Regions from separate parts of the Homo sapiens genome. Here regions 2, 3 and 4 are each linked to region 1. Evidence: fine-mapped expression QTL. A gene starts in region 1. Each other region holds a variant in brackets. All regions are shown on one strand. Distances are between the middles of the regions. Region 1 holds the start of MPO (myeloperoxidase). Region 2 overlaps TSPOAP1 (TSPO associated protein 1). Region 3 overlaps GDPD1 (glycerophosphodiester phosphodiesterase domain containing 1). Region 4 overlaps LPO (lactoperoxidase).

Evidence for each region.
Region 2: its variant is fine-mapped to the expression of MPO in whole blood (INTERVAL, PIP above 0.99).
Region 3: its variant is fine-mapped to the expression of MPO in whole blood (INTERVAL, PIP above 0.99).
Region 4: its variant is fine-mapped to the expression of MPO in whole blood (TOPMed, PIP 0.99).

Annotation. Positions count from the first base shown.
Region 1 is chr17:58,279,392-58,287,699 of GRCh38, reverse strand. It overlaps MPO (myeloperoxidase), which reads left to right and starts at 6,765. Exons shown (of 12, transcript NM_000250.2): 1 at 6,765-7,095; 2 at 7,241-7,334; 3 at 7,686-7,861; 4 at 8,054-8,177; 5 at 8,274-8,308. The coding sequence starts at 6,942. RefSeq lists enhancers at 2,654-2,910, 2,823-3,438, 5,815-5,832 and promoters at 5,485-5,685, 5,731-5,956, 5,841-6,242, 6,635-6,775, 6,181-6,775.
Region 2 is chr17:58,307,417-58,311,416 of GRCh38, reverse strand. It overlaps TSPOAP1 (TSPO associated protein 1), which reads left to right. Exons shown (of 32, transcript NM_004758.4): 19 at 204-581; 20 at 666-905; 21 at 1,259-1,450; 22 at 2,037-2,876; 23 at 3,476-3,575; 24 at 3,655-3,806. Among named protein-coding and RNA genes, the nearest start is that of TSPOAP1-AS1, 16 kb to the left of the region's middle. RefSeq lists an enhancer at 1,183-1,882. The variant C/AGAGGAGGAC (reference allele first, on the strand shown) is at 2,171.
Region 3 is chr17:59,263,799-59,272,178 of GRCh38, reverse strand. GDPD1 (glycerophosphodiester phosphodiesterase domain containing 1) reads right to left here. Exons shown (of 10, transcript NM_182569.4): 7 at 5,005-5,138; 8 at 1,184-1,243. Among named protein-coding and RNA genes, the nearest start is that of GDPD1, 47 kb to the right of the region's middle. The variant C/T (reference allele first, on the strand shown) is at 3,624.
Region 4 is chr17:58,259,023-58,263,022 of GRCh38, reverse strand. All of the region lies in intron 9 of LPO (lactoperoxidase), which reads right to left. Among named protein-coding and RNA genes, the nearest start is that of MPO, 20 kb to the left of the region's middle. The variant G/A (reference allele first, on the strand shown) is at 2,150.

The DNA of each region.
Region 1 (8,308 bases):
TCTGTTTGGGAAAAAAAAAAAGAAAAAGATGGCTCCCCACCTCATACCATTCACACAAACAAAATTCCAGATGGATTTGAGACCTAAGTGTAAAAACAAAGTGTTAAAGTATTATAAGGATATACAGGAAAATATGTTTATAATCTTGAAGAAAGGAAGAGCCCCTTAAAAAAAAAAGCTGAAAGAGCGAAATCCAAAATAAATACATAAAACAAAAAGCAAAATCCATATAAAAAAATTGATAAATTTGACCACCTTGAAATTAAGACACTATAAAAAACATAAATGAAAAGCGATGTACTAAAAAGAAATTTGGAACCTACATAACAACTGAAGGACTTTAGTGCTTACCCAGAATATAGAATACTTGTTACAAATCAATAAAAAGAGTGACAACACCATAGAAAAATTAACAAAACAAAACACAGGAAAGTTGCAGAAGATATAATTCAAATAAAAATATGCTCAACCTCACTATTAACCAAATACATAAAAGTTGAACCAATAATATGATTCCATTCTTTGCTCATGAGATTTTTACAAAGTTTGGAGGCTAGTTTAGCAATACGTATCTGTTAAGATTTTATTAGATACGGGGTCTTGCTCTGTCGCCCAGGCTGGAGTGTTCTGGTGTGATCATAGCTCACTGTAACCCTGAATTCCTGGGCTGAAGTGATCCTCCTGCCTCAACCTCCCAAGTCGTTGGGACTACAGGAGTATCACCGCGCCCAGCTAATTTTTTTTTTTTTTTTTTTTTTTTTGTAGAGACAGAGTCTCATTATGTTGCTCAGGTTGATCCCAAACTCCTCGGCTCAAGTGATCCTCCCACCTCGGCTTCCCAAAATGTTGGGATTATAGGTGTGAGCTACTGTGCCAGGACTTAAATTTTTTTTTTTTTTTTTTTTTTGAGATGGAGTCTCACACTATCACCCAAGCTGGAGTGCAGTGGTGCCATCTTAGCTCACTGCAACCTCTGCCTCCCGAGTTCAAGCGATTCTCGTGCCTCAACCTCCCAAGGAAGCTGGGAGTACAGGTGTGCACCACCACACCTGGCTAATTTTTGTATTTTTAGTAGAGATGGGGTTTCATCATGTTGGCCAGGCTGGTCTCGAACTCCTGACCTCAGGTGATCTGCCCACCTAAGCCTCCCAAAGTGCTGGGATTATAGAAGTGAGCCACAGCGCCCAGTGTTTTTATTTTTATTTTTTTTTGAGACAGAGTCTCGCTCTGTCACCCAGGCTGGAGTGCAATCATGCAATCTCAGCTCACTGCAGCCTCTACCTCCCAGATTCAAATGATTTTCCCACCTCAGCCCCATGAGTAGCTGGAACTACAGGCATGCACCATCATGCCCGGCTAATTTTTGTATTTTTTGTAGAGACGGGGTTTCACCATGTTGGCCAGGCTGGTCTTGAACTCCTGACCTCAGGTGATCTGCCCGCCTTGGCCTCCCAAAGTGCTGGGGTTACAGGCATGAGCCACTGCATCTGGCCTTAAAAATTGTAAATGAACAAAACCTGTGGTCCACTTCTTCATTTTTACCATGGGGAACACTTGTGTGTATGTACAACAAGGCCTCTCAAGGCATTGTTTTTTTTTTTGTTTGTTTGTTTGTTTGGTTTGTTTTTTTTTTTTGAGATGGAGTTTCGCTCTTTGTTGCCCAGGCTGGAGTGCAGTGGCAGTGGTGTGATCTCAGCTCACTGCAACCTCCGCCTCCTGGGTTCAAGCGATTCTCCTGTCTCAGCCTCCCAAGTAGCTGGGATTACAGGTGCCCACCACCATGCCTGGCTAATTTTTTTATTTTTAGTAGAGACTGGGTTTCACCATGTTGGCCAGGCTGGTCTCCAACTCCTGACCTCAGGCGATTTGCCCGTCTTGGCCTCCCAAAGCGTTGGGATTACAGGCATGAGCCACCGTGCCTGGCTGAGGGATTGTTTTTAATAGTGAAAAACAATGTTAAAATGTCAGCTTCCATTAATAGAGGAATGGTCACAAAATGGAGAGACAGGCCAACTAAGGAATATCATGTAAGTTAAAAAAGTGTGATACTACTCAGGAGGCTGAGTCAGGAGGATGGCTTGAGTCCAAGAGTTCCAGGCTGCAGTGTGCCACTGCACTCCAGCCTGGGCAGCAGAGTGAGGCCCTGTCTCTAAAAAATACCAAAAACCAAAAAACTTAAAAAAAAAAAAAAAAAGGTGAGATCACGCTCTAAGTGATACATGATAGATCTAAAGATGCACTGAGTAAAAGAAACACATTGCAGAACAATATGTATAATGGAATATCATTTATGGAGAAAAACCAGGGAACAGAATATTTCTCACAGATCCATAAATATGAATGAATGTAAAGTATTACTAAAAGATTTGGAAGGTCAAATACAAAAATGTCAACAGTGTTTGCATCTGAAGAGTGGAGGAAGGGGACTGGAACTGAGGATGATGCAATAACCTAATCTAAAAGGAGCTTTAGCTTGGTCTGTAATTTTAAATTTTTTTCCAAATATATCCAGGTATTACCTATAGAATTCAAAATTAATTAAAACAGTTGTAAAGAGAGATAAAACAAGATCTATGGGCTGAGTAAAACTGGTTTGTCTAAGCAGCCGCTGCCTCTGCCATCTCCCCAGCTTCCATAGCCTTCTGGGGGTGCCTCTTTCTCTCCAACCACACACAGGAAATCAGGCTGAAATCCCAACTGAATTATTTCTTAAACAGCATTAAGAAACAACATGCTGTTTTGCAAGCAGTAGCAGAGAGGGCCCGTTATCCCACCAGCAGCTGGGCTTCACCCTGGGGGTGGGGATATTTGGGAACTCTAAGTGGGCAGAAGAGACGGCAGTGGGGTGTGAGTGTGTTGGAGGCGGGGAGCTCTCTCAAATGACTATAGTCTTGAGATGTAGCAGTCCCAGCAGTGCCCTCCAGAGCCTACCCCCAGGAAGGGGACTGGCGGGTAACTCACATGGGACAAAGCTTATTTGAAATCCCTCCCACTCCCTTGAGCTGCATTCCCCTGGTTACTCTGCATGCTGAGAAGAGCTTTGAGCCTCAAACACACCTGGCCCGACAAATAGGGCCTAGATGAGGGAACGACAGAGGTGCAGACAGGAGAGGCTGACCACCTTGGGATAACCTCAGGTGGGTCATTATTAATTGGTTGAAAACATGTCAAGTCATAGAACATCTCTAGCCCTGGCACACACATGTGCATCCCCAGACCCACCCCCGGGCCAAAGACAGGGGCTTTGGGGAATCCACATCTTGGGAGTGCTCTCACCTCTATGTGGGTGGAGCACTCAGGGAGTTTAAACGTCGTTCTTGGAGAAGTATTTTCAAACACTCCTGGCCTGATTGCTGCCTGTGAGGAAGCAGAGCAAGCCTCTTAACAGGTGAATCGCTGACATGCTGCCTGCCAGGTCTCTGTGTCTGGGCCTGCCTTTCCAGCGCACTGTCCACACTGCAACCAGAGCAGGTGAGCTCTCCAAAGTAACTTGGACCATGCACTTCCGCTTCACAGACCTCATGACTCCCTGGGGCTTCGGGACAATAATTTCTCAGTAGGTCTGCGAGAATGTTGCATCCTGGGCCTCTGCTTGGCCCACCAGCCTCACCCTGTCCACCCTCTCCCTGTGTTGGAACTGAGTGAAGCCGACAGTGTCATTCTCTGGGCCCAGAATGCTCTTCCTCTGTGTCTACTTGGTCAGCTTTGAGACATTCTTCAAGACAGTCTCCAGAATCAATTCCTCAAGAAAGCCTTCACTGACCTCCCCCAGTTGATCCAAGTGCTGCTCTTCGCTGCTCCCTAAGGTCCCTGCATTGGTTCTGGGGGTGCCATTTGTTTGCCTTTCTGCTCCCCTCTGTGAGCTCCTTGAGGATAAGGCTCATGCTTTGCTCAGTGGAGAATGCTCAATGCCCAGCGCAGCACCTGACAAGGGCTCAGTAAATACTTGTTGAAGGAATCATTGAATGACAAGGGCTCAGTAAATACTTGTTGAAGAAATCATTGAATGAAAGGTCAGGAACAGGTGTCCAGAGGCTACTGGGTAAAGAGCACTGGTTTGGAAGTCAGGAGACTGGGCATGGAGATTATTCTGAACTGTGTCACACTGCTGACCTTGGTCAAGTCGTTTCCTTCCCTGGGCTCCTTCTTTCTCAGCTCTACAATAAGGGGCTTGCATTAAATATCTCTCCCCTGTTGAGCCTTGACAATTCCCTTAAAAGAGCGAAAGGACACTCAAGCATACTCAAGGTTGACAAGGGTGACAGGGGACAGGTGCTCTCATGCATGGCTGATGGGAGGATGAGGTAAAATCTTCAGCAGGCCATTTGACTATCAATATTAAAAAGCCCTAAAACACGCATACCCAAATACGCAGGAATTTTACTTCTTGCCTAAGGAAATAATTGACGATGTGGCGAGAGATTTAACTCCATGGATGCTTATCCTAGTACTACTTATAATAATGAAAATCAGAAACAACTCTAAGTATCTAATGAGATAGAATTAGTTAATAAATCATATAAAATAGTTATATGAAATATTATACAGACATAAAAATGAAGTAAACCTGTATTTATTGACACAGGGAGATGCTCAGACTAAAATTGTTAAGTACCGAAAGTAGATGGTAAAACAATATTTAAAGTTCTTCTTATCAATATTTAAAAATATATATTATGTTTACATATAGGATATCAAATTCTTAAATGAGGTATTGGTGAGTGGTGGGATTATGGGCAATTATTTTCCTTCCTATTGTTTATTTATGTGAAGACAATGATAAACCTTGAAAGAAAAAAGTACCCACAATCTCACTTGATGATGAGTAATTTTGATTTATTTTTATTTTTGCATACTCGTGTTCTCAAACTTTTCATCAGTGAAAATTATATTACTTAAAGGATTGAAAAATCATTTCCAAAAGCCTCTAAAATTCTAGAGCTTGATTCACAAAGAGCCACTCGACCAACTTCACACACAGCAAGTCACTGGCAGGGCAAAAGCTTGGTTCCCCTTCTCAGCAGGGGACAGAATCCCTGGACACACTGGGAAGATATTCTGGGTGTTGCTGTCCCTTGTCCCTTGGCCAAGAGGTGGTCTGGGCATAGAAGACAAGAGTGGGCCGGGCGCGGTGGCTCACGCCTGTAATCCCAACAGTGGGTGGATCAGGAGGAGGTCAGGAGTTTGAGACCAGCCTGGCCAACATGTTGAAACCCCATCTCTACTAAAAATACAAAATATTAGCCGGGCATGGTGGCGGGCGCCTGTAATCCCAGCTACTTGGGAGGCTGAGGCAGGAGAATTGCTTGAACCCAGGAGGCAGAGGTTGCAGTGAGCCGAGATTGCACCACTGTACTCCAGCTCCGCCAACAGTGAGAGACCCTGTCTCAAAAAAAAAAAAAAAAAAAAAGAGTGGGTGGCGGGAAGGTGGCTGAAGGTAGGAGGGGGAACCTAAATGGGACATGGGAGGCATGGTTGGCACGAGCTCAGCCTGACCAGGGCCCAGAGAGGTAGACTGATTCAGTCAAAAGTCGTAGTACTTTTCCTGCTGAGATTGGTGGCCCTTTTGCTGGGCTTTCTCAAGCAAGAAATATCCTCTTCTGTTTCAGAATTATTCTGAATCATTAACCCAAGTCCTCCCAACTGCACTGATCCTGTCCCAGAGAGGCCCTGGGCTGCATCACCTAACTGATCACTAACCACAACCAGTTCTGCTCTCTCCTGGTTCCTGAAATCCAGGAGCAGATGGTGGTGGGGAGGAGGAGTTTGGAGACAGCCCTCTACCAGAAGCCAAGAAGAAAGGGGAGTGAGGAGGGATAGAGGAAGTTATCTTGGTCCTGCGCCCACAGTCCCCAGGGTCCTCCTTCCTGTGAAGCCCAACGGTCTCCAGCCAGATTTCCTGTCCCCTTAGCCCCACCAAGAACCAGAGGCTGCCCATTGGGTGGCTGTTGGATGCAGGTTACTGTTGGAGTGGGGGATGGCCACCTGAGGCCAATTGGGTCATCTTTACTCCAGGTCTCCCTTTCATCCTCCTGTCTTCCCTGGGGGCACTCTATTCCCTGCAATTCCTTGGGCTACCAGTTCCTGACTTTTGTTCCTTTCAAAGGAACCCTGGATAACCAGTGTAACCAGAATTTCAGAGGGGTTAGTTGTGTGTATCCCCTGGGGACAAGCACTGGTATAGGCACACAATGGTGAGCTGAGAAATCTTGGGCTGGTAGTGCTAAATTCAAAGGCTGGGGACAGGCTGGGGCCAGTGGCTCATGCCTGTAATCCCAGCACTTTGGGAGGCTGAGGCGGGTGGATCACTTGAGGTCAGGAGTTCAAGACCAGCCTGGCCAACATGGTGAAACCCTGTATCTACTAAAAATACAAAAATTAGCTTCTTGCCTAAGGAAAAATACAAAAATTACTTCTTGCCTAAGGAAATAATTGATGATGTGGCTAGAGGCTAGGGCGTGGTGGCGGGCACCTGTAATCCCAGCTACTCGGGAGGCTGAGGCAGAAGAATCGCTTGAACCATTGCACATCAGCCTGGGCAACAGAGCAAGATAACGTCTCAAAAAAAAAAAAAAAAAAGGCTGGGGACAATGCTGGCCCCTCCTTTCCTGCCCCTTCCCCCCATTTCAGGGGCCCCTCTGTGTGTACCTTCCAACCCCAGTGGGGGAGGAGAAAGAGTTCAGTCTCCAGGATCAGACCTTCCTCTACCTCACCCCACCCCCAGCTTAGAGGACATAAAAGCGCAGATTGAGCTAAGAGGAGCTGACAATATCAGGTGAGCTGTGGAGGTGGGGTCCTTGGAAGCTGGATGACAGCAGCTGGCAAGGGGATAAGAGAGCAGTGAGCCCCTCCCTCAAGGAGGTCTGGCTTTATCCATAGACAGGGCCCTCTGAGGTGGGGCTGAGGTACAAAGGGGGATTGAGCAGCCCAGGAGAAGAGAGATGGGGGTTCCCTTCTTCTCTTCTCTCAGATGCATGGTGGACTTAGGACCTTGCTGGGCTGGGGGTCTCACTGCAGAGATGAAGCTGCTTCTGGCCCTAGCAGGGCTCCTGGCCATTCTGGCCACGCCCCAGCCCTCTGAAGGTGCTGCTCCAGGTAACAGTTCCCAAGGTGGGAGAAGATGGTGTGTTGGGGTGGTTGTGTTCCAGAGACCCCTTTTCTCAGAGCAGGCCTTCCTAGCTCTGGGGCCTGATAGGGGGTTGGGGCCCATTCCTGACTTTGTGATCCCTGCTCTGGGCAGCTGTCCTGGGGGAGGTGGACACCTCGTTGGTGCTGAGCTCCATGGAGGAGGCCAAGCAGCTGGTGGACAAGGCCTACAAGGAGCGGCGGGAAAGGTGGGGCACGAGGCACTGCCCAGCTCTGGGCAAGGATGTCCCAGGCCTTTCAGAGAAGCAGCAGGCAGCAGGGAGCTTGAAGGTGGGAGAGGGGGACTATGGGGACCCATGTGGACTCCCTTTCTGTCTGTCTGTCCCTGTGTTTCTGGATGGGAGAACAGCTTAAAAGCCATCCTTCCCAAAGCCTTGCCTCTGTCTGGACACCCAGGTCCATATCCTTTTTATAAAAGGAAGCCTTCCTCCCACCCGTGGGCCTGCCTGCATGGTCCTGCATGTCTGCCCCTGGGCTGGGGCTCTGCTGGGTGGGTCTGTATCCCTTCTCTGGCCCTCACTCCTCCTTTCTCCAAGCAGCATCAAGCAGCGGCTTCGCAGCGGCTCAGCCAGCCCCATGGAACTCCTATCCTACTTCAAGCAGCCGGTGGCAGCCACCAGGACGGCGGTGAGGGCCGCTGACTACCTGCACGTGGCTCTAGACCTGCTGGAGAGGAAGCTGCGGTCCCTGTGGCGAAGGCCATTCAATGTCACTGGTACTGTTGCCCATCACACCCCAGGTCCCTGCTCCACTAGTGACTCCTCCTAGGGACCCCAGCCGTCTCTCAGTGATCCCCTCAACTTCTTCCTCCAGGGAGTCTCAGGAGTCTCCAGGGCTCCTCAGCCTCAGGTTGCCTGGGATAGGAAGTGAGGCGGCTCAGCTCCCCCATTGTTCTTTCCCCCGGCAGATGTGCTGACGCCCGCCCAGCTGAATGTGTTGTCCAAGTCAAGCGGCTGCGCCTACCAGGACGTGGGGGTGACTTGCCCGGAGCAGGACAAATACCGCACCATCACCGGGATGTGCAACAACAGGTGCGGCTGGCTGGGGGTGGCTGCAGGAACCGGGCTCAGAGAGGCGTCCCGGACGCCACAAGCCTCCCGGTGTCAGCGCCCTGTCCTCCCCTGCAGACGCAGCCCCACGCTGGGGGCCTCCAACCGTGCCT
Region 2 (4,000 bases), 26 kb before region 1:
ATGACAGATTTTAGAACTGTTCCATCACTGAAGCCATATGGCCAGGAGGATGAAATGAGATAGGCCATGCAGAGGGCTTAGCACAGTACCTGGCGTAATGCTAGCTGCCACTGCTGTCAGTTAGCTGCCACTGCTGTCAGTGCATCCTCACGCTTGGCTGTCTCAGCCTCTGCTTCCCATCCTGTGCCCCCTCCACCCTGCAGATCATGGAGGTGGCCTCACCCACGGCAGGCAGTGTACTGGTGGAGTTGTCCCAGCTGCAGCTGCTGCAGGTGTGTCGTGAGGTGGTCGTGCGCACCATGTCGCCCCACGGGGAGTCGGCGGACTCCATCCCGGCTCCTATCACTCCCGCCCTGGCTCCGGCCAGCCTGCCAGCCCGAGTCTCCTGCCCCTCACCGCACCCAAGCCCAGAGGCCAGAGCGCCCCTTGCTTCAGCCTCCCCAGGGCCTGGAGACCCCAGCTCTCCTCTCCAGCACCCTGCTCCCCTTGGAACTCAAGAGCCTCCAGGAGCACCCCCTGCAAGCCCTTCCAGAGAGATGGCAAAAGGGTCCCACGAGGACCCTCCAGCACCTTGCTCCCAGGTACCCTGTCTGGGGAGAGGGGAGCAGGTGCAGGCTGGCAGAGGGACCTGGGCTTGGGTCCTTCCTCAGTGCTCTCTGTTCCAGGAGGAGGCTGGGGCAGCAGTGCTGGGCACCTCAGAGGAGAGGACAGCCAGCACATCTACCCTGGGTGAGAAGGACCCTGGCCCCGCAGCTCCCTCACTGGCCAAGCAGGAGGCCGAGTGGACTGCAGGAGAGGCCTGTCCGGCCTCCAGCTCCACCCAGGGAGCACGGGCCCAGCAGGCGCCAAATACCGAGATGTGCCAAGGAGGAGACCCAGGGTCTGGGCTGAGGCCCAGGGCTGAGGTAGGGGTTTGGGGACACACTGTGTCACTTCAGAGAATTGAGGCCTGTCTCCCTACCTTTTGCCAGCGCAAATCCAGTTGCCCTCTCTGCCTGTCCTCTGCTCTGGTCCTGCTCTCACACCTTTGGCTGTGCTATGTGTCTGTTTTTCTTCTAGGATTTCTCTGTCCCATGTGGCTCCCATCTCCCTTCTCCCACCCTGCCCCTGAGCCATGGTGTGCCTCCCCCATTTAGGACATGGCTCTTTCTCCCTCTGCCAAAGGACCCTTGTTACTGTGGCTGGGGCTGACCCTGCCTGGAACCCCCTGTGCCCCCTCACTGTCCTTATCTCTCCTGCCTTGCCTCACTTCTTGCAGAAGGAGGACACAGCAGAGCTTGGGGTTCATCTGGTGAACTCCCTCGTGGACCACGGCCGCAACTCAGACCTGTCAGACATCCAGGAGGAAGAGGAAGAGGAGGAGGAGGAGGAGGAAGAGGAGCTGGGTTCCAGGACTTGCTCCTTCCAGAAGCAGGTTGCTGGCAACAGCATCAGGGAGAATGGGGCCAAGGTAACGGGGTAGGGATGGGCTGTTGGGCCCCAGGCCTCAAACTCCGGGGCCTCCCCACTGTGTGTCAGCAGGTGCTCTGACCACCACTGAGTGCCAGAAACATTCTAGGTCTGTGGCCTGGGCCCTGTCCTAAGCAGAAGATAGGAAGTGCCCCAGGATTGGCCCCTGCCCTCCTGGAAAGAAAGGGGAAGGGGAGGAGTTCATTTCTGTACCTTCTCTCCCTCCAGCCCACCAGATACAGCGCCCTGGCCAGGGGAGGCCGGTGCCACCTAAGATCCTTGTGCTGGTAGCTTCTGGGGAGGGGATGGGGAGGCCTGCTCCTCAATGCTCCTGTCCCACAGGGGCTGGTGATGGTTCCTAGAGTGTGTTCCCTAATTCTTCCTTTGGCTCTCACTGGATATGTGTGTGAATTTGGGCCAGCCACCGTCCCTCTGGTTCTCTCCTCTCGGAGGAAGCCGTGGGAGGGCTGTGGGGTTGTCCGTAACCCCTGCCTTCGTTTGAGGGCAAAGATCGCAGCTCGCTCTCCTCTTCCCCACGCATCTCTCTTCCCTGCTGTGTTCTACTCCCACCTCCCCACCTCCACCAGTCCCAGCCCGACCCCTTTTGTGAGACTGACAGCGATGAGGAGATCTTGGAGCAGATCCTGGAGCTGCCCCTCCAGCAGTTCTGTAGCAAGAAGCTCTTTAGCATCCCGGAGGAGGAGGAAGAGGAAGAGGAGGA[C/AGAGGAGGAC]GAGGAGGAGGAGAAGTCAGGGGCAGGCTGTTCTTCCCGAGACCCTGGCCCGCCTGAACCTGCATTGCTGGGGCTGGGCTGTGACAGTGGTCAGCCCCGAAGACCTGGCCAGTGTCCCTTGTCTCCTGAGTCCTCCAGGGCTGGAGACTGCCTGGAAGACATGCCTGGATTAGTTGGTGGAAGCAGCCGGAGGAGAGGAGGGGGCTCCCCTGAGAAGCCCCCAAGCCGCAGGCGGCCTCCAGATCCCCGAGAACACTGCAGCCGACTTCTCAGCAACAATGGGCCCCAGGCCTCTGGACGACTGGGCCCCACACGGGAGAGGGGTGGCCTCCCCGTAATTGAGGGCCCCAGGACTGGACTAGAGGCTAGCGGGAGAGGCCGGCTGGGCCCTTCCCGGAGGTGCTCCCGTGGCCGGGCGCTGGAGCCTGGCCTGGCCAGCTGCCTTTCCCCCAAGTGCTTGGAAATCAGCATTGAATATGATTCGGAGGATGAGCAGGAGGCGGGCAGCGGGGGCATCAGCATCACCAGCTCCTGCTACCCTGGAGATGGGGAGGCCTGGGGCACAGCAACTGTAGGAAGGCCCAGGGGGCCTCCGAAGGCCAATTCAGGCCCCAAGCCCTACCCACGCCTCCCAGCCTGGGAGAAAGGGGAACCAGAGCGGAGAGGCCGCAGTGCGACGGGCAGAGCCAAGGAGCCACTCTCCCGGGTCCGTGCTCACTCCCCGCCCTGGGCAGCCCCTGCCTGCTGCCACCTGGTGGCCCTGCTTGCTGCCCACCAGCAGCTCCCATTCCACGCTGCCTGCCTCCATCAGCAGAGGTGGGGCCGGGCCTCCGGGCTCCCTCACCTGCCTCCTCCCACCCACATTCCACTGCTTTGCTGCTTCTGCTGATCAGGACTGGGATGCACAATATTCTATCACTAGTCGCCTGTTGCGGCCTGTGGGCAGGGTCGCCCTTTCCTCTGCATAGCTAGTAATGGCTTCAGGACGCTGACTGTGATGCCATGTCCAGGGTTACCTGCCCTGATGCTGACGGGAGGCCCTCCTCTCGCGGGCTCCTCAGCCAACTCCAGTCCCCTCTACTCCATTCATCTACTCGCAGGCTGGGGCTGGGGCCTCCCCTCCTGCCCTCCCTCCCACTGTGGGGGTGTCTGAGGTCTCCAGCAGGCTGGGCCGAGGCTCCGGGAGAGGAATGCTGTGCTCCTGCGCTGCTGTGCTGCTTACGCTGATGGGGCAGAGCTGGGGGAGCACGAGCCCACCAGAGGGATGGTGTGTTACTTTTGCCATCTGTTGCCCTCTTTTTGCAGGCAACAGAGACCGGAGAGGCCAGAGGGCAGGACGGCTCTGGGCGGAGGGGCCCCCAGAAGAGAGGTGTCCGAGTCCTCAGGCCAAGCACTGCAGAGCTAGGTGAGCACCTGATGGGGCTGGAGCTAGAGCTGCTCGGCCAGAGCTCGCTGCGTCACCGCCCTCTCCACTGTCTCCACAGTCCCTGCGAGGAGCCCCTCAGAAACACTGGCTTACCAGCACCTACCCGTCAGGATCTTTGTGGCTCTGTTTGACTATGACCCCGTGTCAATGTCGCCCAATCCTGATGCTGGAGAAGAAGAGCTTCCCTTCCGAGAGGGTCAGATCCTGAAGGTGACTGATTCGCCATCAGGGCTCAGAATTCCAAACACCAGCTGGGTCTTCCCTCCTCCCTCCTTTCCTCCACTGGAGGTAGCACAGAATCATGGTGGAGAACATGGCTTCTAGAGCAGATGACATGGGTTTGGACCTGACTCTGCTGCTTCTAGCTGTGTAACCTTGAGTAGATTACCTAGGCCCCCTGGGCC
Region 3 (8,380 bases), 980 kb before region 1:
GTCTATTAGAATGATTAAATAACAGAAACTAGAAATCATGTGCTTTTAACACCAATTAACAATGCATCTTGTCAGTTAATAGGGTTGAAAAAAGAAAAAAAATGCATCCTGGTTTTACTTGAGTACAAAAAAAAGGCATCCTTGAAAACTAGAGCTTAAATCAAGAATAAAGCAAAAAAGAATAAACACTGACAGAGAGAAAAGATAAAACTAATTGTTTAAGACTCTTTGAAAAAGGCGTTAAGGCTGGGCGCGGTGGCTCACACCTGTAATCCCAGCACTTTGGGAGGCTGAGGTGGGCAGATCACATGAGGCCAGGAGTTCGAGATCAGCCTGGCCAACATGATGAAACCTCATCTCTACTAAAAAATACAAAAACTAACCAGGCATGGTGGGAGGCACCTATAGTTCCAGCTACTCGGGAGGCTGAGGCAGAAGAATCACTTGAACCCAGGAAGCGGTGAGCCGAGATCACACCACTGCACTCCAGCCTGGGCGACAGAGAAAGACTCCATCTCAAAAAATGAATAAATAAATAAATAAAATAAAATAAAATAAAATAAAATAAAATAAGAAGAAAAGGCGTTAAATAATAAAAAGTTGTGATTTGGGACTATTAAAATATTTAAGCATTCAAGGTTCCATCTTAAAGCAAAATATAGTACAATTATTTAGTGATTTTTACTAAAATTAAACTCATCATGTCTAAATTAAGGCATTTACTTTAAAGTTGATATCCACTCTATAGGTGGGATTTCCTTTCTGCTGTTAAGTCTTGGTGCAGAGCAAATTTTTCTGAGAAATGTGCTGTAGGCAACATACACTTTTATATATACTGTGTTGCTACACTTCTTTTCACCAGCAAGTAAGCTAAAGGGAATGGTTATTTAACCTAGTTCTGCTACTAACTAGCTAGATAACCCCAAGTAAATAATTTAACTGGGTATATGGGGGCTCAGTTTTCTCATGAAGTTGGAGGACATTATCTCTCAAGATTCTTCCTAAGATTTTGTGATTAGTAATTAAGATATTTCTAAATGATTCATACACATTTTACATAGCAGGTGCTCAATTTGTCCTTGTTACAAATTACATGTGGAAAGCTTGCACAACATTTTAAGGGTAGTATTTAATAAATATAGCTGAAGCAATAACTTGCATATTAAGAAATTAAAATTCTTACAGATCAGAAAGCCAGATGAGAAACTTTTGACTTCTGGACATGGTGTGTGGTTCTTTTAGCCTAGGGTAAAATAAAGTTTGAATTACAAATTAGAAACACAGAAATATATCAGTGTGATAAAATGAAACAAATTCAAAAATGAAAACAGTGCCTTGTACTTTGTATATTCTCAAAAAATATTTGTAAAAAGGACAAAAATAAAATAAAGGCCAGTTGGGTTCTGTTTGCACTGGTCTCAAGCTAACTTTTTGCCATCCCTATTCAAAAGTAATAAATAAATAAATAAATAAATAAATGCATACATAAATAAATAAATATTGTCTTTCCAGAGACCCTGGTGCCCTAGGCTCATATCTCGTTTCTTTTTTGGTGAAATCTTTCTCCTGCTTTGTCTCCTACAATTTAGTATGTGGCAAATTTAAACATACAACGGAACTGTATTATAGATCAAAGTGAGCAGTTTACCACGTGTTTTCCTTTCCTTTAAAATATCTGTAGGCCAGGCATGGTGGCTCATGTCTGTAATCCCAGCACTTTGGGAGGCTGAGGCTGGTGCATCACCTGAGTTCAGAAGTTCCAGACCAGCCTGGCCAACATAGTGAAACCCCCCCCCGTCTCTACTAAAAACATAAAAATTAGCCGGGCATGGTGGCGCACACCTGTAATCACAGCTACTCAGGAGCCGGAGACAGGAGAACTGCTTGAACCCAGGAGGCAGAGGTTGCAGTGAGCCAAGACTGCGCCACTGCACTCCAGCCTGGGTGACAAAGTAAAACTCTGTCTCAAAAAAAAAAAAAAGTACAAAATAAAGTACAAGTCCTTTTTTCCCTAACTCTGGCCCCAGTGGAAAGTCCTGGTTGCAATTTCAGGAATATTAGGGATTTAGTAGCTCAAATACTGATTACCTCATTAAACAATCACTATATTGTCTTAGAAAATATCCATTGTCTTCTATAGAAGTATTAAAACACACAAAATATATCCTGCTTGTGTCTTAATCCATAATCACTTTTTAGAGAAAATATTAATTCTGTGGAGTTTGTTCTTATGTCTGTATTTCAACAATATTTGCTTCTAAAAGGAACATATGAAGATAAATATAGAGCAAACAGTCCACTCCAGGCCAGAGGAAAGCTAAGTACTTTAGGAATAAATGTTTTATTTATTTATTTATTGGCAGAGTCTTGCTCTGTCACCCAGGCTGGAGTGCAATGGCGCTATCTCGGCTCACTGCAACCCCCACCTTCTGGGTTCAAGCGATTCTCCTGCCTCAGCCTCCTGAGTAGCTGGGATTACAGATGTGCGCCACCATGCCCAGCTAATTTTGTATTTTTAGTAGAGATGGGAGTTTCACCATGTTGGCCAGGCTGGTATGGAACTCCCGACCTCAGGTGATCCGCCTGCCTCTGCCTCCCAAAGTGCTGAGATTACAGGCAGGAGCCCCTGGCCCAGCCAGGAATAAATGTTTAGGGATCATTTTAATCTAGCAAATAAAATAGGGTGTTTTTTGGGGGGGGGGGTAGACAAGAAGCGTTTTCTATTGTTTTGTCTGAGAAACAGCTACAAAGATGTTCATAAATATAATTTAGGAATAAATAAAATAAACATGTTTATCACTAAGATACTGAAATTGGAAAACAGGCATGAAATAGAAGTTGAGCACAAGAGTACTGACTAAATTGTTTTTCTTTTCTTTTCTTTTTTGAGACAGAGTCTTGCTCTGTCGCCCAGGCTAGAGTGCAGCCATCTCGACTCACTGCAACCTCCACCTCTGGGGTTCAAGCGACTCTCTTGCCTCAGCCTCCCGAGTAACTGAGATTACAGGTGTCTGCCACTGTGCCCGGCTAATTTTTGTATTTTTAGTAGAGACGGGGTTTCACCATGTTGGCTAGGCTGGTGTTGAACTCCTGACTTTGTGATCCACCCGCCTCAGCCTCCCACAGTGCTGGGATTACAGGCATGAGCCACCACGCCCGGCCAATTGTTTTTCTTTCTTATTTTTTTTTGAGAAGGAGTCTCGCTCTGTCGCTCAGGCTGGAGTGCAGTGGCGCGATCTTGGCTCACCGCAACTTCTGCCCCCCGTGTTCAGGCGAGCCTGGCTAATTTTTGTATTTTCAGTAGAGATGGGGTTTCACCATGTTGGCCAGGCTGGTCTCAAACTCCTGACCTCGTGATCCTCCTGCCTCGGCCTCCCAAAATGTTGGGATTACAGGCGTGAGCCACTGCACCTGGCCTGCTTTTCTTAGCAATATTGTCTGATGACTGCTACACTAACGTTCAGCTTTATTTTTTTCCCCCAAGTCATTACCTTTATTGAGACATGCTATAAAAGAGGAAAGCTCTTCAGCTTGATTTTTTAAAGTTCTGTTGGATATGAAAAGTGTTTTCTTTTCTTTTTTTTTTTTTTTTTTTTTTTTGAGACAGAGTCTCGCTCTGTCGC[C/T]CAGGCTGGAGTGCAGTGGCGCAATCTCCGCTCACTGCAAGCTCTGCCTCCCAGGCTCACGCCATTCTCCTGCCTCAGCCTCCGGAGTAGCTGGGACTACAGGCGCCCGCCACCACGCCCGGAGAATTTTTTTTTGTATTTTTAGTGGAGACGGGGTTTCACCGTGTTAGCCAGGATGGTCTCGATCTCCTGACCTCGTGATCCACCCTCCTTGGCCTCCCAAAGTGCTGGGATTACAGGCGTGAGCCACCGCGCCCGGCCATGAAAAGTGTTTTCATGCAAATAAAATCACATTTAAATCATCTCCCCAACGATTCCAAATTCCTTTGCCATAATTCAGTTATGAATCTACAGCTAGAAATCACATTCTACGTGTGTAGAATTTTGAGATGAAGCTATCATTCTTTATAATAACAAAGATAACAATAAAAGCTATCACTCTTGAGTGCTTAGTATTTGTCAGGCAATCTAAGTGTTTTTATGTACCTATGTATTTTTACAATCTATGTATTTTTATCTTGCTAGTAAATTAGCAAGTGAAATGCAAGGCTTTTCTAGTAGTGGAATTACGTAAATATAAAAGGATCCTGGCTGGGCAAGGCGGGTCACGCCTATAATCCCAGCACTTTGGGAGGAGGTGGGTGGATCATCTGAGGTAAGGAGTTGGAGACCAGCCTGACCAACATGGTGAAGCCCCATCTCTACTAAAACTACAAAAATTAGCCAGGCAAGGTGGTGGGCGCCTATAATCCCAGCTACTCGGGAGGCTGAGGCAGGAGAATCACTTGAACCCGGGAGGCAGAGGTTGCAGTGAGTCGAGATCACACCTTTGCACCCCAGCCTAGGCCACAACAGCAAAACTCCATCTCAAAAAAAAAAAAACAAAAAACCACTATAAAAACAGTATCCTATATAAACTAACTATACCCTTTTATTTTCCTATCTCCAGAGGTTTTTATGGTGGTGGTGGTTTTTTCTTCCTAAATGTATTACAGTAATACCATTGTTTAATTTGGAGTTTAATGGAATTTGAGCTGGGTAAAGCTGTCAATGAAGTAGAAAGCAATAAGGGAAAGTGGAGGGCAACTGCTATTTGATGTGAGAATAAAATAATTATTTACCTTCTGTAATTAAATTAAATTCCTTTTATCTGATTTCTGACTATACAGGCACAGAAAATCATAATCTGAGATGGGTCCTGATTATTTGTTTTAGAGAATGTGTCTTAATTATATAAAAATGCATAATATAGGTCAGGTAATAGAACATGGAAATCACTACAGAAATCTCTTCTTCATCATTGATATTGATATTAGTGAGCTTTTATCTTAGTCTTTCTGTAATTGATAATTGATTTTAAAATAAAAGGGTAACCACTTACTTCAGTATAATAGAAGGCATTGGGATTTCAAAAAACTGTTCTCGAATGGGCACAAAGGGCAAGAGGCCAGTGAAGAAAAGGCCAAGAATGAGCAGGACACGTTGTAGACTGAAGAGTATAGGAATATCTGAATTCTAAAAGACACAAGCAATATTACATGTTATTTTTACAACTGCTCAAATAAAGAGGATTACTTCACAACTCTCAGTATTTCCCAAGACAATGTGTTGAAATCTATTACAAGCATTCCTGGGATTATGAATATTCATTTGCAAATAACACCACACTTAATAGTGGCTAGTCCTTGATAAATGGGTCAGGATTGATCTTGGAGCCTCATAGTATAATGATGTTACTAAAATTTCTCTATTACCGTCTCTGCTTTTGCAATACCACTTCTGCGTTGGTTACAGTACTTACAGCTAAAGACTAAACATGTCAGAATCCAATGGAACAAAATGAAAAGATGAATATATGGAATATTCAGTAACTTTACTCCTGTTTAAAAAATATGTAGCTATATATCTCTATATATGAGTATATATAGATACATATCAATACTGTTGCAAATGTGTCATCTTTTAGCTATGTTATGAATCAAATATAAAATATAAATAGGATTTGTAAACTAATCCAAGAATCTAACCACCATTTTAAGTTTCTATTGGAAAATATGCTCAATATCCCAAAACTTTAAAAATACAAGATAGACATACATATATATATAATTTTAATTGTGCTAAAATACACATAACACAAAATTTAAGATTTTTTTTTTTTTTTTTTTGAGACGGAGTCTCACTCTGTCACCCAGGTTGGAGTGCAGTGGCACAATATCGGCTCACTGAAACCTCTGCCTCCTGAGTTCAAGCAATTCTCCTGCCTCAGCCCCCCAAGTAGCTAAGATTACAGGCGCACACCACCATGCCCAGCTAATTTTTTGTAGTTTTAGTAGAGATGTGGTTTCACCATGTTGGCCAGGCTGGTCTCAAACTCCTGACCTCAGATGATCTGCCCACCTTGGCCTCCCAAAGTGTTGGGATTACAAGTGTGAGCCACCGCACCAGCCAAATTTAAGATCTTAATCATTTTTTAAATCTATTTTCTCACCACCCCCACCCCCCGCCACCCAGCAAAATTGAATGTCAATCATTTTTAAATGTACAGTTTGGTGGTTTTAAGTATATTCACACTGTTGTGCAACCAAAGTCCAGAAGTCTTTTCATTTTGCAAAAGTGAAAACAACTCTATGCCTTTTTTTTTTTTTTTTTTTGAGATAAGGTCTCACTGTCACCCAGGCTGGAGTGCAGTGGCACAACCAAAGCTCACTGCATCCTCGACCCTGGCTCAGGCAATACTCCCACCTCAGCCTCCTGAGTTGTAATAGATGGGACTACAGGTGTGTGCCACCATGCCCAGCTACTTTTTTTGGTATTTTTTGTAGATATGAGGTTTCACCATGTCACCCAGGCTGGTCTCGAACTCCTGGGCTCAAGCAATCCACCTGCCTCAGCCTCTCAAAGTGCTGGGAATACAGGTGTGAGCCACCTTGCCTGGCCAACTTTATACCATTAAATAACAAATCTCCATTCCCTCTCTCCTTGCCCTCCTATGTGTACTATATATAGATATATATATATTAGACAGGGTCTCGCTGTCACCCAGGCTAGAGTACAGTGGCTGGATCATGGCTCATTGAAGCCTAGATCTCCCAGGCTCAAGTGATCCCACACCTCAGACTCCCAAACAGCTGGGACTACAGACATGCACCACCATGCCGAGCTAATTTTTTAAAAATTTTTTGTAGAGACAGAATCTCATTATATTGCCTAGGCTGGTCTTGAACTCCTGGGCACAAGCATTTCTCCTACCTCAGCCTCCCAAAGTGCTGGAATGACAAGCGTGAGCTACCATGCCAGGCCCTGCTATATTTACTGGAAAAAAAAATTATGCTTACAGTGAACTTTTAATAAAAACATAATATATATTTTTAAAAATCACATAAAAATAATTTATTTTAAATAGTTAGTTCTAGGCTGGGCGCGGTTGCTCACGCCTGTAATCCCAGCACTTTGGGAGGCCAAGGCGGGTGGATCACTTGAAGTCATGACTTCGAGACCAGCCTGGCCAACATGGTGAAATCCTGCCTCTACTAAAAATACAAAAATTAGCCGGGCGTGGTGGCGTACAACTGTAACCCCAGCTACTCGGGAGGCTGAGGCAGGAGAATCTCTTGAACCCAGGAGGTGGAGCTTGCAGTGAGCCAAGATTGAGCCACTGCACTACAGCCTAGGTGACAGAGTGAGACTCTGTCTCAAATTAAAAAATTATATAAATAAATAAATAGTTCTAAATTATCTACTCCTTTATTTTTTTAAAAAATAGAGTAAATAAGTTTGAGAATTTATTTTGCCCCTTTGTTTACATGGTGCTTTGTAATGTTCTTGGCTTACTTACATACAGGTGTTTCAGCTGTAACAAAATATACAAGTCACTGCAAAATCTTGAGTTTTGCAAAATCATACACTAAGGATAACAGAGCTTATGGGAAAACAGGGTTAGGGGCTGACCCTCAAAACTTACAGCCAGGTGCGGTGACTCACACTTGTAATCCCAGCACTTTGGGAGGCCAAGACGGGTGGATCACTTGAGGTCAGGAGTTCGAGACCAGTCTGGCCAACATGATGAAACTCTCTCTACTAAGAATACAAAAATTAGCCAGGCGTGATGGCAGGCACCTGTAATCCCAGCTAGTCTGGAGGCTGAGGCAGGAGAATTGCTTGAACCTGGGAGGTGGAGGTTGCAGTGAGCTGAGATCGTGCCACTGCACCCCAGTGTGGGCAAGAGTGAGACTCTGTCTCAAAAAAAAAAACTTGGCTGGGCACAGTGGCTCATGCCTGTAATCCCGACACTTTGGGAGGCTGAGGCGGGTGGATCATCTGAGGTCAGGAATTCAAGACCAGCCTGACCAACATGGAGAAACCCGGTCTCTACTAAAAAATACAAAAATTAGCCAGGCATGGTGACGTGTGCCTGTAATCCCAGCTACTCAGGAGGCTGAGACAGGAGAATTGCTTGAACCCAGCAGGCGGAGGTTGCGGTGAGCCAAGATTGCACCACTGCACTCCAGCCTGGGTGACAGAGCGACATTCTGTCTCAAAACATAAAATAAAATAAAATTAAATTAAAAATACTTATGCAACTTTGGAACCACAGCACTAAAAGAAAGAACCACTGCGTTAAGTGTGAATGAATGAAAAGTCATTAAGCGCCACATTTTCCCACTACCACTGTGTGCCCCAATTCCTTTAATGTTTATATTTTGGGTTTACATCTGGAAATTAAAAGGCTGATGTAAAATTCTTATAAATCATAC
Region 4 (4,000 bases), 23 kb after region 1:
ATTGCTCAAACAAACCAGAGCCTCTGGGTTCTGTGAGACCATAACAAAAGATCTGGCATTCATATCAATGGAGTTCCAGAAACAGAGGAGAAAGGGGGTGAAACTGAAAAAGGATTTGAATAAATAATGCCTGAAAATTTCTCAAAATTGGTGAGAGGCACACATTTACAGATTCAAGAAGATGAATGAATCCCAAACAGGATAAACAGCGAAATTCACTCCAAGGCATATCATAATTAAATTTCTGAAAACTAAACATAAAGTATTAAAATAGTCAAAGAGAAATGACACATTACCTATAAAGAAACACCAATTCAAGTAATGGTAAAGGGCTGGGTGTGGTGGCTCACGCCTGCAATCCCAGCACTTTGGGAGGCTGAGGCGGGTGGATCATCTGAGGTCAGGAGTTTGAGACTAGCCTGGCCAACATGGTGAAATCCTGTCTCTACTAAAAATACAAAAAGAATTATCCAGGTGTGGTGGTGAGCATCGGTAATCCCAGCTACTCGGGAGGCTGAGGCAAGAGAATCGCTTGAGCCCGGGAGGCGGAGGTTGCCGTGAGTCGAGATGTTGCCACTGCACTCCAGCCTGGGCAACAGAGCAAGACTCTGTCTCAAAGAAACAAAGAAATAAACAAACAAACAAAATATCGGTGAAGCTCTCATCTGAAACCACAGAAGCCAGGGGAAGTGTCGCCACATTTTTCATGTGCCGAAAGACAAGAACTACCAACCCTGAATCCAATAGCTGGTGGAACGATTCTTCAGGAATAAAGGAGAAATAAAGACATTCTCACACAAAGGAAGACTCAGAGAATTTGCTGCACACAGACCTATCCTTAAACAATGGCTAAAGGAAACTCTCTAAACATGAAGAATGGTAATAGAAGAAGGACAGGACCTTCAGAAAGGAAAGAAGAACAATGTAATGGGTAAAAATAGAAGTAAACATCAATTCTTTTCCACCTCATGAATTTTTTCATTATATTTTATGGTTGAAGCACCATCTGATGTGCTATAAAACATATATAGAAGAAATGCTTCAGACAATTATATTTCAAAAGTGGGGAAGGTGAAGGGACCAAATGGAAATGAGTTTTCTACATGTCACTTGAAATGATAAAGCACTGACACCAATAGGTTGTGATACGTTGTAAATCCATATCTCTATCTCTCTCTCTATCTTTATTTCTATATCTATCTACCTATCTATCCGGAGAACAACCACTAAGAAAATTATACAAAGCAATATGTGATCAAATGGACCTCTAAAAAATGTTCAATTAACCCACAGGAAGGCAAGAAAAACAATATTAGAGGAAGAAGAAACAGAAGGAACAAACAGAAAACAAGTAATAAAATGAGAGATATGGGAGATTTAATCCCTAACATGTTAATAATTATTTTAAAGATAATTTAAAAGTACTAATTACTAAAGGTCAGAGATTGGCAGAGTATATTTCTTTTCCTTTTTTTTTTTAAGTGACCCAACTATATGATGTCTAAAAGAAACTCGCTTCAAACATAATGACATAGGTAGGTTGAAATTGATGGAATAAGAAAGATCATGCAGACATAAATTTTTAAAAGCAGGGGTGACTATATTAATATCAGATAAAGTTGACTTCAGAGGACAAAAGTGGAAATTACATAATGATAAAAGGATCTATCCATCAAGAAGATGAAGCAATCCTAAATGATATGGATCAAACAACAGAACTTTAAAGCTTTAAAATACATGAAGCAAAACCTGACAGGACTGGAAGAAGAAATAGGCAAATTCTCATTTATAGCTAGGGATTTCAACACCTGACTCTCAGTAAGTGGGAGAATTACTAGACAGAAAATTAGCTGGAGTACAGACTGAATAGCACCATCAACCAACAGATCCAACTGACATTTACAGAACATTGCATTCAACAACAGCAGAATACACATTCTTTTTAGGAACTCACAGAATATTCAACAAGATAGTCCACAGCAGGGTTATAAAACAAATCTTAACAAATTTAAAATTGAAATCATACAGAGTATAGTTTCTGATCATGATGGAATCAAACTAGAAATCAGGAAGGCAACAGGAAAATCTACAAACGCTTGGAAATTAAATAACACTCTTCTAAATTATACATAGGTTAAAGATGAAGTCC[G/A]AAAGGAAACTTAAAAAATACCTACTGAATGAAAATAAAAACACAATATATCAAAATTTGTGGGAGGCAGTCAACTCAGTGCTAAGAGGGAAATTTATAGTACTAAATACATTAGAAAATAGAAAAGATTGCAAATCAGTCATCTAAGTTTCTACTTCAAGAAACTTGAAAAATAAGAGCAAAATAAATCCAAAGCAAGCAGTATAGTTTAAAGGATAAAAATCATATGATCCTATCAATTGATGCAGAAAAACCGTTTGACAAAGTTCTACACCTGTTCATGATAAAAACTCTCATTACACTAGGAATGAAGCAGAACTTCCTCAACCTCATAAAGGGCAACTACAAAACATTTATAACTAATCTTATACTTAATGGTGAAAGATTGAATACTTTCTCGATTGGGAAGACAAGGATGCCTGCTTTCTTACCATGCGCATTTAATATAGTATTGGAAGTTTGAGCCACTAGGAAGTTCCAGGAATTGCCACGTAATAAGGCAAGAAAAAGAAAGAAAAATCATATGGATTAGAAAAGAAGAAACACAACTGTCTTTATTGGCATATTACATGATTACCTGTTTAGAAAATCCAAGTAATCTACAGCAGAATGCCTAGAACTAATTGAATTTAGCAAGGTCACAGGATACAAAATCAACACATAAAAAAATCAATTATATTTTCATACACTGATAAAATAAGTAGAAACTGCAATAAAGCTGTAATACCATTTATAATTCCTCCAAAGAAAATGAAATACTGGGCTGGGCATGGTGGCTCACGCCTGTAATCCCAGCACTTCAGGAGGCTGAGGTGGGCGGATCACGAGGTCAAGAGATTGAGACCATTCTGGCCAACATGGTGAAACTCTGTCTCTACTAAAATACAGAAATTAGCCGGGCATGGTGGCGGGCGCCTGTAATCCCAGCTACTCAGGAGACTGAGGCAGGAGAATCACTTGAACCCGGGAGGTTGCAGTGAGCCGAGATCGTGCCACTGCACTCCAGCCTGGTGACAGAGCAAGACTCCGTCTCAAAACAAAACAAAACAAAATGAAAATTAAATACTGAGGTATAAATCTAACAAAACATGTACAGAATCTGTGTGATAAAACTACAAAATGTTGATTAAAGAAATAAAAAATCTAAAGATTGGGGAGACATACTTAGTTTATGGATTGGAAAACTCAACATTGTAAAGATGTCAACTCTCCCTAAATGTATATATAATTTTAATGCAATTTCTATCAAAATTTCCATAAGGTTTTTTGATAGACATACACAAACTTATTTAATAATATGTATGGAAAGGGAAAGATCCTAGAATATCCAAAACAATTTTGAAAAAGAAGAATAAAGTGTTTTAAGGCTTACTGTATAGCTATAGTAATTGAGCACTGTGGTATGAGAGGAATAGACATACATACAAACCAATGGAAGAGAATAGACAACCCAGAAATAGATCCATGTAAATATGCCCAAATATTTTTTACCAAAGAAACAAAAGCAATTCAATGGAGAAACAATAGCCTTTCAATAAGTGGTGCTGGAGCAATTTGACATCCATAGCCAGAAAAAATTTAAAAAAGCATCTTGACCTAAACCTCACACTTTATGCAAAAATTTACCCAAAATGGATCATAGACTTAAATGTAAAACATAAAACTATAAAACTTCTAGAAGGAAAAAGCAGGAGAAAGTCTTTGGGACCTAGGACTAGGAAAAAAGTTCTGAGACTTGACATCACATGCACAATCCAGGAAAGGAAAATTTGATTAAAAGAACTTCATTAAAATTAAAAGCTTTTGCTCTACAAAAGACCTTCTTAAGAGGATGAAAAAAAAAACCCCCAC